Regions from separate parts of the Homo sapiens genome. Here region 1 is linked to region 2. The links come from fine-mapping of genetic effects on gene expression. A gene starts in region 2. The other region holds a variant in brackets. All regions are shown on one strand. Distances are between the middles of the regions. Region 1 has its middle 41 kb from the start of SLC2A10. Region 2 holds the start of TP53RK (TP53 regulating kinase).

The links. PIP is the estimated chance that this variant, and not a neighbour inherited with it, causes the effect.
Region 1: its variant is the best candidate, but not a certain one, in a credible set for the expression of TP53RK in whole blood (INTERVAL, PIP 0.59).

Annotation. Positions count from the first base shown.
Region 1 is chr20:46,748,420-46,753,798 of GRCh38, forward strand. No RefSeq gene overlaps it. Among named protein-coding and RNA genes, the nearest start is that of SLC2A10, 41 kb to the left of the region's middle. The variant A/G (reference allele first, on the strand shown) is at 3,238.
Region 2 is chr20:46,687,105-46,692,483 of GRCh38, forward strand. It overlaps TP53RK (TP53 regulating kinase), which reads right to left and starts at 2,340. Exons shown (of 2, transcript NM_033550.4): 1 at 2,028-2,340; 2 at 1-127. The coding sequence starts at 2,310. TP53RK-DT (TP53RK divergent transcript) reads left to right here and starts at 2,195. Exons shown (of 1, transcript NR_186399.1): 1 at 2,195-3,185. RefSeq lists a silencer at 1,919-1,968 and an enhancer at 2,199-2,788.

The DNA.
Region 1 (5,379 bases), 61 kb after region 2:
GAGGTAGGAGAATCCCTTGAACTCGGGAGGTGGAGGTTGAAGTGAGCCAAGATCGCGCCATTGCACTCCAGCCTAGGTGATAGAGTGAGACTCTGTCTCAAAAAAAAAAAAAGAAAAAGAAAAAAAAGAAAAAGAAAGAAAAAAAGGAAAAGAAAACAGCCTGAAAAATAGAAAGCAAGATTTCTGACAGTGGCAATCTCAAGGCAGTTGGAAGAACAGGAAAGACTAGCTCCCCACTTAGAACATTCTATACTGTCTATGTGTTTCTGTGAATTCTCATTCATGTCTTGCTTCTATAATGAAAGGGCTATGACAGTGAAAGAAAAAAATAAAAATAATTTTTAGTACTTTAGAAAATACTGAAAACTATAAAGATTAAAAATAAAAACTGCCCATGTCCTACCAGTTACTAACAACATTTTGGTATATATTCATTCACCTACTCTTTTGTCTATGACAATAAATCAAGCTAGTTAGAAACGAGGACAGGTATTGGGATATATAGACATTCTCACATCATTGAGACCACACAGTATACGACACGCTGTGGCATTTACTTTTTGAGATTATCAAGCATTTCACATGAGGCTGAGTTCACAAATATATTGTCTTTGCCAAAGTTACAAACAGTATCCACGATTTCCCCCAGGGTCTGGCTTTTTGGGTCTGGCTTTTTCTTTACTTCTGAACATGTAGAAAAATGAATTATGTGCCTACCAAGACAACATTGCAGTTTTCCTGGCAAAGGCTAATTCTGCCGATGGAAACAGTGTTTTCATTTTCTTTCTTTCTTTCTCCCCACCATTCTATGCTTTTCTGGTTTCTCTGTGTGCGTATTTTCCCCCTGGATTTGACATTATAAAGTTGCTAAGTTCTTCCAGATTTAAGGTGCTATGCCATCTTAAATCTCTGGATTTGACAGGCTGGGCCAGTGGTTACTGAGATATGATCCAAGAAGCTTTCTCTGGGGCCATCTGTCAATCAGATGTCAGCTCATAAGGAGGAAGAACTTGGCTGCTGGCCTGCACTTGGATGCCAGAGTTGGTTGCCTTTTGCTTGAATTGTGTCTGCACAGTGCTAGGCGCCCAGTAAATTCTCATTGTATCCCTGATGGGTGAAACCTCATCAGGTAGCTCTTGAATGGAGATATAAAATGTTTGCCTCATGTCAACTCTTCTTGATCTTTTTGACCCATGTCTTCCGATCTGAACAGCATTTAAAACTTTCTCCCATTGTAGCACCTATGGCCATACTAACTTGTCTGATCCTATTGTGGGTGAATTTTTGAAGACAATTATAAACCAGCCCACATGTCAGTACCTGAGATTTCTAGCCTTCCAGTGTCATCCATTCTAAAACCCGATTTGAAGATGCAATGTAGGAAACCAAGAACTACCACCACCACACCCTGTCATCGCTGTACCTTTGAGGTCATTTACTCAGCTTTCATGTCTGGTATGTTGAAAGAGTGGAAGTTGGGAGTTAGAGGGGTGCAAGTAGCAACTTGATTTTCCCTCTCACTGCCCATTCAAACACAACTGGTGGGATAGTTCTTTACTTTCCCCGAATGATCCATTGGGCCGATCCTTTAGCCCTTCTCCTCACCCTTAGATCATGACCAATAACAATATGGTGATGATTATAAAAATAAAATGTCTCCAAGTCACTTCTGAGTGTAGCAACAGTCTAAATGAAGTCATTAGAATGTCGAGTCATGTCAAAACTCCAAACTTCATTCATATTAAACCTCTTTCCTCCTCCACTCTCATTTCTTCTCCTCCCCAGCCCCCTTGGGCTCTGAAGAGGTGAGGAGCAGGGATGTTTTACTTGGCTGGTGTTGTGATGATGTGATCTTGTGCTTTCTGGACTTAGAGGGCCAATTCCTTCTTTCCTTAGCTTGTGTGTCCCAGGGGAGGGATGGCGGTTCTTGGCAATTCTCCCACTGGCAACCTCCAAATTTGCTTCCTGGGAGGCAGGCAATGTGTCTCCTCTGGCAGGCCACTCTTGAGTGTGCCTGCAGGTCCTGGGCATCCTGTGGTCCAGCAGCCCCATTTGGGCGCCTCACATTTTCAGGCAGTCCTGCACTGGGAATCCCAAATAACCCCAGGCCAGCTGCCTCTGGAGGTTCAGAACCTGCTGGAAGAAACTTACACCTTTGGCCTTCTCTAAAGTCATCATTCCTGATGCAGTAATCCATTTTCCTGCAGAGGCTGAGCGGCCATGGTCCCTAACTTCTACCCATTTCCAGGCATGGGTTTGGCACTAGTCTGTCCAGAAGACACAGGGCAAGCTCTTTCGGTGGTTTCCCCACATCTCTCTGACTCGGCGTTCGGTGAAGAGTTGGAACGGCTTTTTCTCCAGCATAACGTTGGAGGTGCTAATGGCAAGGAAATGCCACAGGACGCCAAGTATCAATAGTTTCTCCAAAGACGTGTCTCCAAACCTGTATTAGTCCCTTCGTTCTCGCACTGCTAAAAAAAATACCTGAGACTGGGTAATTTACAAAGAAAAGAGGTTTAACTGGCCCACAGTTCTGCAGGCTATACAGGAAGCATGGCTGAGGAGGCCTCAGGAAACTTACACTCACGGAGCAAGGCAAAGGGAAAGAAGGAATGTGTTCACATGGCTGGGGCAGGAGGAAGAGAGAGAGGTGGGAGGCACTACACACTTCTTTTTTTTTTTTTTTTTTTTTTTTTTGAGATGGAGTCTTGCTCTGTCGCCAGGCTGGAGTGCAGTGGCACGATCTCGGCTCACTGCAACCTCCGCCTCCCAGGTTCAAGCTATTCTCCTGCCTCAGCCTCCCAAGCAGCTGAGACTACAGGCACACGCCACCACGCCCAGCTAATTTTTATATTTTTAGTAGAGACGGGGTTTCACCATGTTGGCCAGGATGGTCTCTATCTCCTGATCTCATGATCTGCCCGCCTTGGCCTCCCAAAGTGCTGGGATTACAGGCGTGAGCCACCGCACCCGGCCAGCACTACACACTTCTAAGCAATCAGATCTGATGAGAACTCACTCACTATCACGAGAACAGCAAGGGGAAATTCGCCCCCATGATCCAATCACCTCCCACCAGTCCCTCCTCCAACACTGGGGATTACCATTTGACATGAGATTTGGGTGGGGACACAAATCCAAACCATATCAAAACCAGTCCTCTCTTTCAGCTTCTCCAACCTCCTTGAGCACTGGGGTAAGGATCACAAACCAATTTTTTTACCATTGCTTTTTGCA[A/G]TTCCTGCAGAGGTGGAGGGAAGGGTGCTTGCTACCCACTGGGTTACTCCTGGCGTTTGGAGCTTCAGCCAAACGGAAGACAGAAAGAGTCCCATCCACACGCCACGGCTCTCATTTATCCCTTCAACAGGCGCCTGGATCCTCCGGTTCCACTTCTCAGGGTGTTCTGCCTTGCAGCTCTGGCAGCTGTTGTCTCCAGCCTGCATCAACTCAAATATGGAAAACATCCACGTTTTCTTTTCATTTTCTTGCCGCTTTCTAACAGTATCACTCATACATTTCAGAGAGTCCCATAGACTTTCCGTAAGGGGTGGAGTCACAGAAGCGGGCATCTGTTGCTTGGACGCCATCCACTTCCATTCGCCTCTAAGCTGATAGCTCTTACGGATCTGCTCCTCAGGGACCCCACCCATCTCCTAGTTAACCAATAAGAGCACCCCACCCCCACCATCCCAGCAACAATGATTGGTTCAGGAATGAGGGCGTGGCCAAAGCTAAGCCAACCAAAGCCAGTGATACTGGATTCTGGGACTAATTTTTAAATTTCTTAAGAAAAACTCTTCGTACTGGATTGCTGAGAGAATGGGATGTAAGGTCTGAACTCATGTCTGCCTTCATGCTACCAGCAAAGAGAACCTTGAAACCAAGTGCCCTGTATCCAGTAGGTGCTTAATAGTAGTTTATCGAGTGAAGGAAATAATGGGGAAAACATCTGCCAATGCAAGTAGTGCCAGTGCAATGATTCAAAGTGGTACTAAGTGCCCCCTGGAGAGGGCTGCATACACATGCAATTCCAAGTCTAAGAATGTATCTCACAGATACATTTGCACATGGACCCATATCAGTGTTACGGTGAAAGGTTGGACAGGTTATGCACTGCCCAACATTAGTGTGCACCATTCACATCAGGCGGGACAGAGTGGGAGAAGATAACTTTGCTGTAAACCTTTGTGCCCTGTGTGATTTTTTTTTTACCATGATCATATATAGTTTCTTCAGAAGAAAAATTTTTATATCAAAGCCGAAACTGTGCATTTACATTTCTTTATACATTGCTTGGCACATCAGTGCTCAATATGTATCAGCTGTATCAGCAGCCATCATTATTGTTATTTTTTAAGCTGTTTTGAAAACCTTACGGTGTTATTACACCATGGAGACACACGAGGGCGCGCCAGGCATCTATTTAAAAAGTGTTTTCATAGCAGTTCGTGGAGGCTGTAATTTTGAGTGTGTACAGGAGATGGGGGAAAAAGTCTTGGGGGTCCCGTGTGGGTGACAAGGGCAAGTCTTAGTTCCAACTTGGTCCAGTCTGCCAGCCTTGTCAATGAAATACCAGGACTCCCTTCCTGAGTGCTCCATAGTGGAATCAGGGTGAGCGTCCACTCTTTGCAAGTCCTTAGAGGAGAGAGCTGGCTGAGCCGGAGGACTGGCCCGGGGAGCCCCTGCTGCACCCGGACCTGTGTTCTCATCTGTGCAGCAGAAACAATCAAACCCACCTGCAGGGCTATCGTGAGATTAAGCAGGGTCTCTCAGAGATCAAAAGAAGCCCGAACTACTTTCTAGAGTGAAGAACTGGAAAGAAGAGAGAGAGAGAAGGAAAAGAAAGCCTCAAACAATCACCAAGATTGAAGTCACTCTCACAAGGTTAAATTTTACAACTCACCCCTCTGCCTCATATACACGGCAACCTAACAGTGCCAGGCAGAGATGGTGGGATTTATTTTAAAACAGTAACTTATATGGTCTGATAGAAGGACCCAAGCTTGGCCGGGCGCGGTGGCTCACGCCTGTATTCCCAGCACTTTGGGAGGCTGAGGCGGGTGGATCACGAGGTCAGGAGTTTGAGACCAGCCTGGCCAACATGGTGAAACCCCGTCTCTACTAAAAATACACAAATTAGCCGGGCGTGGCGGCGCGCGCCTGTAATCCCAGCTACTCAGGAGGCTGAGGCAGGAGAATTGCTTGAACCCTGGAGGCGGAAGCTGCAGTGAGCGGAGATAGCACCACTGCACTCCAGCCTGGGTGACAGAGCGAGACTCCGTGTCAAAAAAAAAAAAAAAAAGAAAAGAAAAAGAAGGACCCAAGCTTAATAATTTCTTTCTGACCCCTTCTGCTATCAGTTCTGGCGGTGCTTCTCCG
Region 2 (5,379 bases):
TGGGGAGTTTTTTCAGTCTCCATAGTGGACTGAATATAATCTCGAACAGTCACTGAGCCTTCAATTTCTTCCATATATAAGCAGTTGGAAGCATAGTCCACAAAAAAGACAACTGGGGCAGATATTCCTGAAATCAAGACATAAGTGGTTATTGGGTTGGATTTTTTTTAACGGGTAAACTTAATTTTCAAAGATTAAGCCAGTTTTTCCATCTATATCTACTTATTTCAGGACTATTGAGGAATGCTACAGGAAATGGTACAACTGAACTCATCTGGAATATTCCCCTGCTCATGCCCACTGCAGGACTATGCCTGGGAACACCCCACAGCTAAACTGAGGAGGCCATAGCTTCCTCCTCCCTTCCAAACCACCCTTTCTCACTGGACTTCATTTGTCACACTCACTCTCTAAAAAACAAACAAAACAAAGGCCGGGTGTGGTGGCTCATGCCTGTAATCCCAGCACTTTGGGAGGCGGAGGCAGGCGGATCACTTGAGGTCAGAAGTTCGAGACCCCCATCTCTACTAAAAATACAAAAATTAGCCAGGTGTGGTGGCTCACGCCTGTAGTCCCAGCTACTCGGGAGGCTGAGGCAGGAGAATAGCTTGAACTCAGGGAGCGTAAGTTGCAGTGAGCTGAGATTGTGCCACTGCACCACTCCAGCCTGGGTGACAAAGTGAGACACTGTCTCAAAAAACAAAAACAAAGAGCAAGGCACAGCCCAGTCAGAGCAGTTTCTACTGATGAGGACACAAACAGGAGGCCAAGCAGTGTGCTAGCTTCGAGGTTCATCTTCGTAGTCAGAGAGGACAGGGTTCAAATCCCAGCTGCTTTTCTTATTAGTTGTCTAATCTAATCTTAAAATTACATTAACTTCTCTAAGCCTCAGTTTCTGCTACTATACAAGGAACAATAGCTCCAATAAACTCAATGAATCTTTACTGAAAGTCAACCAGGCTCAGTATACTTTTCTAGAAACTGAGAGATGTTATCAATGGGGATACAGCAATAAACAAGCCAGCTATAATACAATCTCTGCTTAACGAAACAGATCATGAGGCTGAAAACAGAAATATGAATACACAAATAACTTCATGAAATCTTAAGTCTCTGAAAGGGCAGCAATGTGTCCGCTTGTTGGCTACTGAATATCCCCCACCCAGATCTCCCAGCACTTAACAATGTCCTGGTACCCACTGGTACCTAAAAAATACTGATAAAAGAAAGGCAAGAAGCGTAAAAGTAAAAAGCCAGGGCTTCTGAGTCAGAGGCATAAGGAGCTGAGGGCCTGGACCGGCCACTTAGTAACCGTGTAACCTTGGGCAAGTTACTTCTCTCTGAGTGTCACTTTCTCATCTGAGGACAAAGTTTATGGTGCTGGCGCACAATGATGTTTAATGAAAAAATAGGCAATTTAATGAAATCCAACATTTATTGGGCACTATGTGCCAGGCACACATTTGAACATAATACGTGACACACATACCTCCTCTAATGGTCACAACATCCCTATGACATGGATACTGCTACTATGTCTCCCATTTTACAGGTGAGAAAACCGAGGCTGAGAGGCTAAATAACTTGTTGAAAGGCTACACAAGCAGCAGAGTTAGTATTTCAACCCAGGGAGCCTGGCTCCAGTGGGGCAAGTACTTGTCATTACATGTTTCTTAAAACTAATAAATGGAAAGATAATGATCGAAAATTGAAACGAGTCAAATGGGGAAACCAAGGCTCAGGGAAGTTAAACATGTTCAACATTGAGCAATAATGACAGATCCCAGATTTGAACCAGGCAGAACGGCCTCAGGACAAAAGCTTGACGCTGCATGGCCACGTGGTTTCTTAAGACTTAACGAATGAAAAAAGGGATGAAAGAATAACATTTCCGAAAGGCCGGACACCGCAGAAGGCACAGAAGGAGAAACTGAGGGAAATCCAGCTTCGGAGCGCAGGGGAGTCCCTCACCCGCCCAGGCCCCAGAGCCTCGGGGCCGCCCACGCCGGGATCCCGGCCCACCTTACCAGCGCGGCGACAGCGGAGGAGCGCCCGGGCCTCCTGCACCGTCCGCCGTCTGCCAAGCCGCGCCTCCAGCGCCGGGTGCCGGTAGCCCTTGGGGAAGCGGTGCTTGATCACCGCCGCGCGGCCCTGGAAGCGGCCACGGAACACGCGCGCCTCGGCACCCTGCTTCACCAGCTCCAGGCCGCTCAAGAAGCGGCTGCTCCGCTCCCGGGCTGCGGCCAGAGCCTCAGCCTCCGGGGCGGGCTCCTCGCCATCGGCCGGCGTAGTAGCTCTGGCCGCCGCCATGACTGCTCGGCGCAACAGCTCCAACCGATCAGCTGTCTCTGAAAACTGTCGCGATGCTTCGGCTCGCTTCGGAAATCCTGGGACTTCTTCGGCAATCCTGGGACTTCTTCGGCTACCCGAATGCGTCCACCCCGGACACTTCCGGCCTGTAAGTGGTTACGCCTCCCAACTTTTCGGCTCTCTGAAGCCTGAGGTTCCCTGCAGGAAGGGCTCTTGTGGCCCCGCCTTCCGCCTCTTCGGCTATCTCCGTACACGTTCGGCAACGCTCAGTAAGTGGCTCTTCCCGACTCCTTGGCTCTCCGGAAATCTTCGGTGACTCTCGCAGCCGGCTTTGGGGGCCCACCTCTCAGTTGGTCGTCTCTTTCCGGAAAACTTCGGCGCCTCTCGAGAAAAACGTCGGACGCGCTTTGCTCTCTTCAGAAGTCTCTTCCGGGACAGCTGTACCCTCTAGTAGTCTCTTTTTGGAACTCCTCTTCCCCTGACTCCTACATTCCCCCCAAAATGTGCTCATACAAGTCAGAGTCGGAAGGGTCAGACAATGAACCATGTTTCCGACATCCTCTTAAGTGCTAGGATAACTACCATTTAGTGCATTCAGAAGAAATAAGGTTAAATGATGAAAATCCTTACAGAAAAGAAAATTGAGACTCAGAGCTGGCAGAGGGGGTGGTAAGATGGGGTGGGGAGTGGGGGCTGGGGAATCCGGGAAAGTCTTCCGGAGACAGAACCTAAACTGAATTGGGAATAATTAAACTTTTTCAGTTTCTACCTGTTTCATTACAAAGCTTATAATAACACAGGCTGTAGCAAATTCTTACAATACGGAACTTTGCACACGCACACATAAATAAATAAACTACCTATCCCCCTTGTGACACTGCTGGCCGTTAGTTTCTTTCCAGAATTTTCTTTCATTCAGTGTGCACACTCACACATCGTTGTGGCGTTTTTTCCAACATAAATGACATCATACTGTGGGTTCTTTGGCAACTTGCTTTTCATTTTCCTAAACAATTTATCTCAGACTATATTCCATATCAATACATACAGAGCTACCACGTCCTTCTACCTGGTCAGGCAGTTTCTTGTTGCTAAACAGTTGTTTCCAGTTTGTTGTTTCTCAGGAAAACACTTTACTTACTATTGCCAGTTTATTATAAAAGATAGTATAAAAGATAAAAATGAACAGCCAGATGAAGACGTACATAAGGAAAAGTAAAAATTGTACGTGTTTATCGTAAGTAACATGTTTTGAAATATGTATACATTGTGGAATGGCTAAATCCAGCTAGTTAACGTTACCTAACATACTGATCATTTCGGGGGTGAGGACACTTAAAATCTATTATCTTAGCATTTTTCAAGAATACAACCCATTGTTATTATCTATAGTCACCATGTCGTGCAATAGATTTCATGAATGTTTCCTCCTATCTAACTGAAATTTTGTATCCTTTGACCAACTTCTCAAAATCCTCCCTATCTCCCTCCCCCTACCCCACCGCCTGGTAACCACCATTCTACTCTGCTTGCATGAGTTCAACTTTTCTTACCTTCCTCATATAAGTGAGATCATGGGATATTTGTCTTTCTGTGCCTAGCTTATTTCATTTAACACAATATCCTCCTGTTCCATCCATGTTGCTGTAAATGACAGCATTCCATTCTTTTTAAAGGCTGAATAGTATCCCATTGTGTATATAAATGTACCATATTTTTATCCATTCATTTAGTGATGGACACTCAGATTGAGAATTGTGAATGATGCTGCAATTAACATGGGACTGCAGACATCTCTTCAATATACTGATTTTGTTTCCTTTGGATATGTACCCAGTAGTAGGGTTGCTGGATCATAAGGTAGTTCTATTTTTATTTTTTTTGAAGAACCTCCATACTGTTGTCCATAATGTCTGTACTAATTTACATTCCTATCAACAGGGTGCAACGGTTCCCTTTTCTCCACATCCTTGCCAACACTTATTATCTTTCTTATGTTTTAAAATAGCGATTCTAACAGGTCAGAGGTGATATCTCATTGTGGGTTTAATTTGCATTTCGCTGATGATTAGTGATGTTGAGCATTTTTTTTTAATATACCCGTTGTCCATTTTTATGTCTTCTTTTGAGAAAGATTTCTTTGGATCTTTTGCCTACTTTTAATTCAGGTTTTGTCCTTTCTTACTATTGGATTGTATTCCTTATATATTTGGATATTAACCCCTCATCAGATGTATGGTTTGCAAAAATTTTCTCCCATTCTGTAGTTTGTCTTTTCACTCTTTTTTTTTCTTTTTTCTTGACTGTGCAGAAACGTTTTAGTTTGATGCAATTCCATTTGTCTATTTTCACTTTTGCTGCCTGTGTTTTGAGAGTCCTACACAAAAAATCGTTGCTCAGGCCAATGCCATGACATTTTGTCCCTGTTTTCTTATAAGAGTTTTATAGTTTTGGCTCTTACATTTAAGTCTAATCCATTTTGAGTTGATTTTTGCATATGATGTAAGATAAGAGTCTAAATTCTTTCACATGAATATCCAGTTGTCCCAACACCATTTATAGAAAAGACTGTCCTTTCTCCATTACGCGTTCTTGGCATGTTTGATGAAACTCAATTGACTATAGTGCGTGGATTTATTTCTGGGCTCTCTATTCTGTTCCATTGGTCTATGTGCCTGTTTTTATGCCAGTGACATGCTGTTTTGATTACAATAACTTTGTAGTATATTTTGAAGTCAGGCAATATGATGCCTCCAGCTTTGTTCTTTTTGCTCAAGATTGCTTTGACTATATGGAGTCTATTATGATTCTATATAAATTTTAGAATTTTTTATTTCTACAAAAATGTCATTGGAATATTGATAAGAATTACATGGAATCTGTAGGACATTTTAACAATGTTACTTCTCCAGTTTTGTTTCATTTTTTTTTGTTTTGTTGTCTCTTATAAACAGTGCTGCAGTGAGCAGGCTTATCCAGCCATCTTTGCACACATGAATGTTTCTGAGGACATCTTTCTACAGGTGATATTGCTGGGTTGTAGGTGACAAGCACTTTGAAACTCGACTC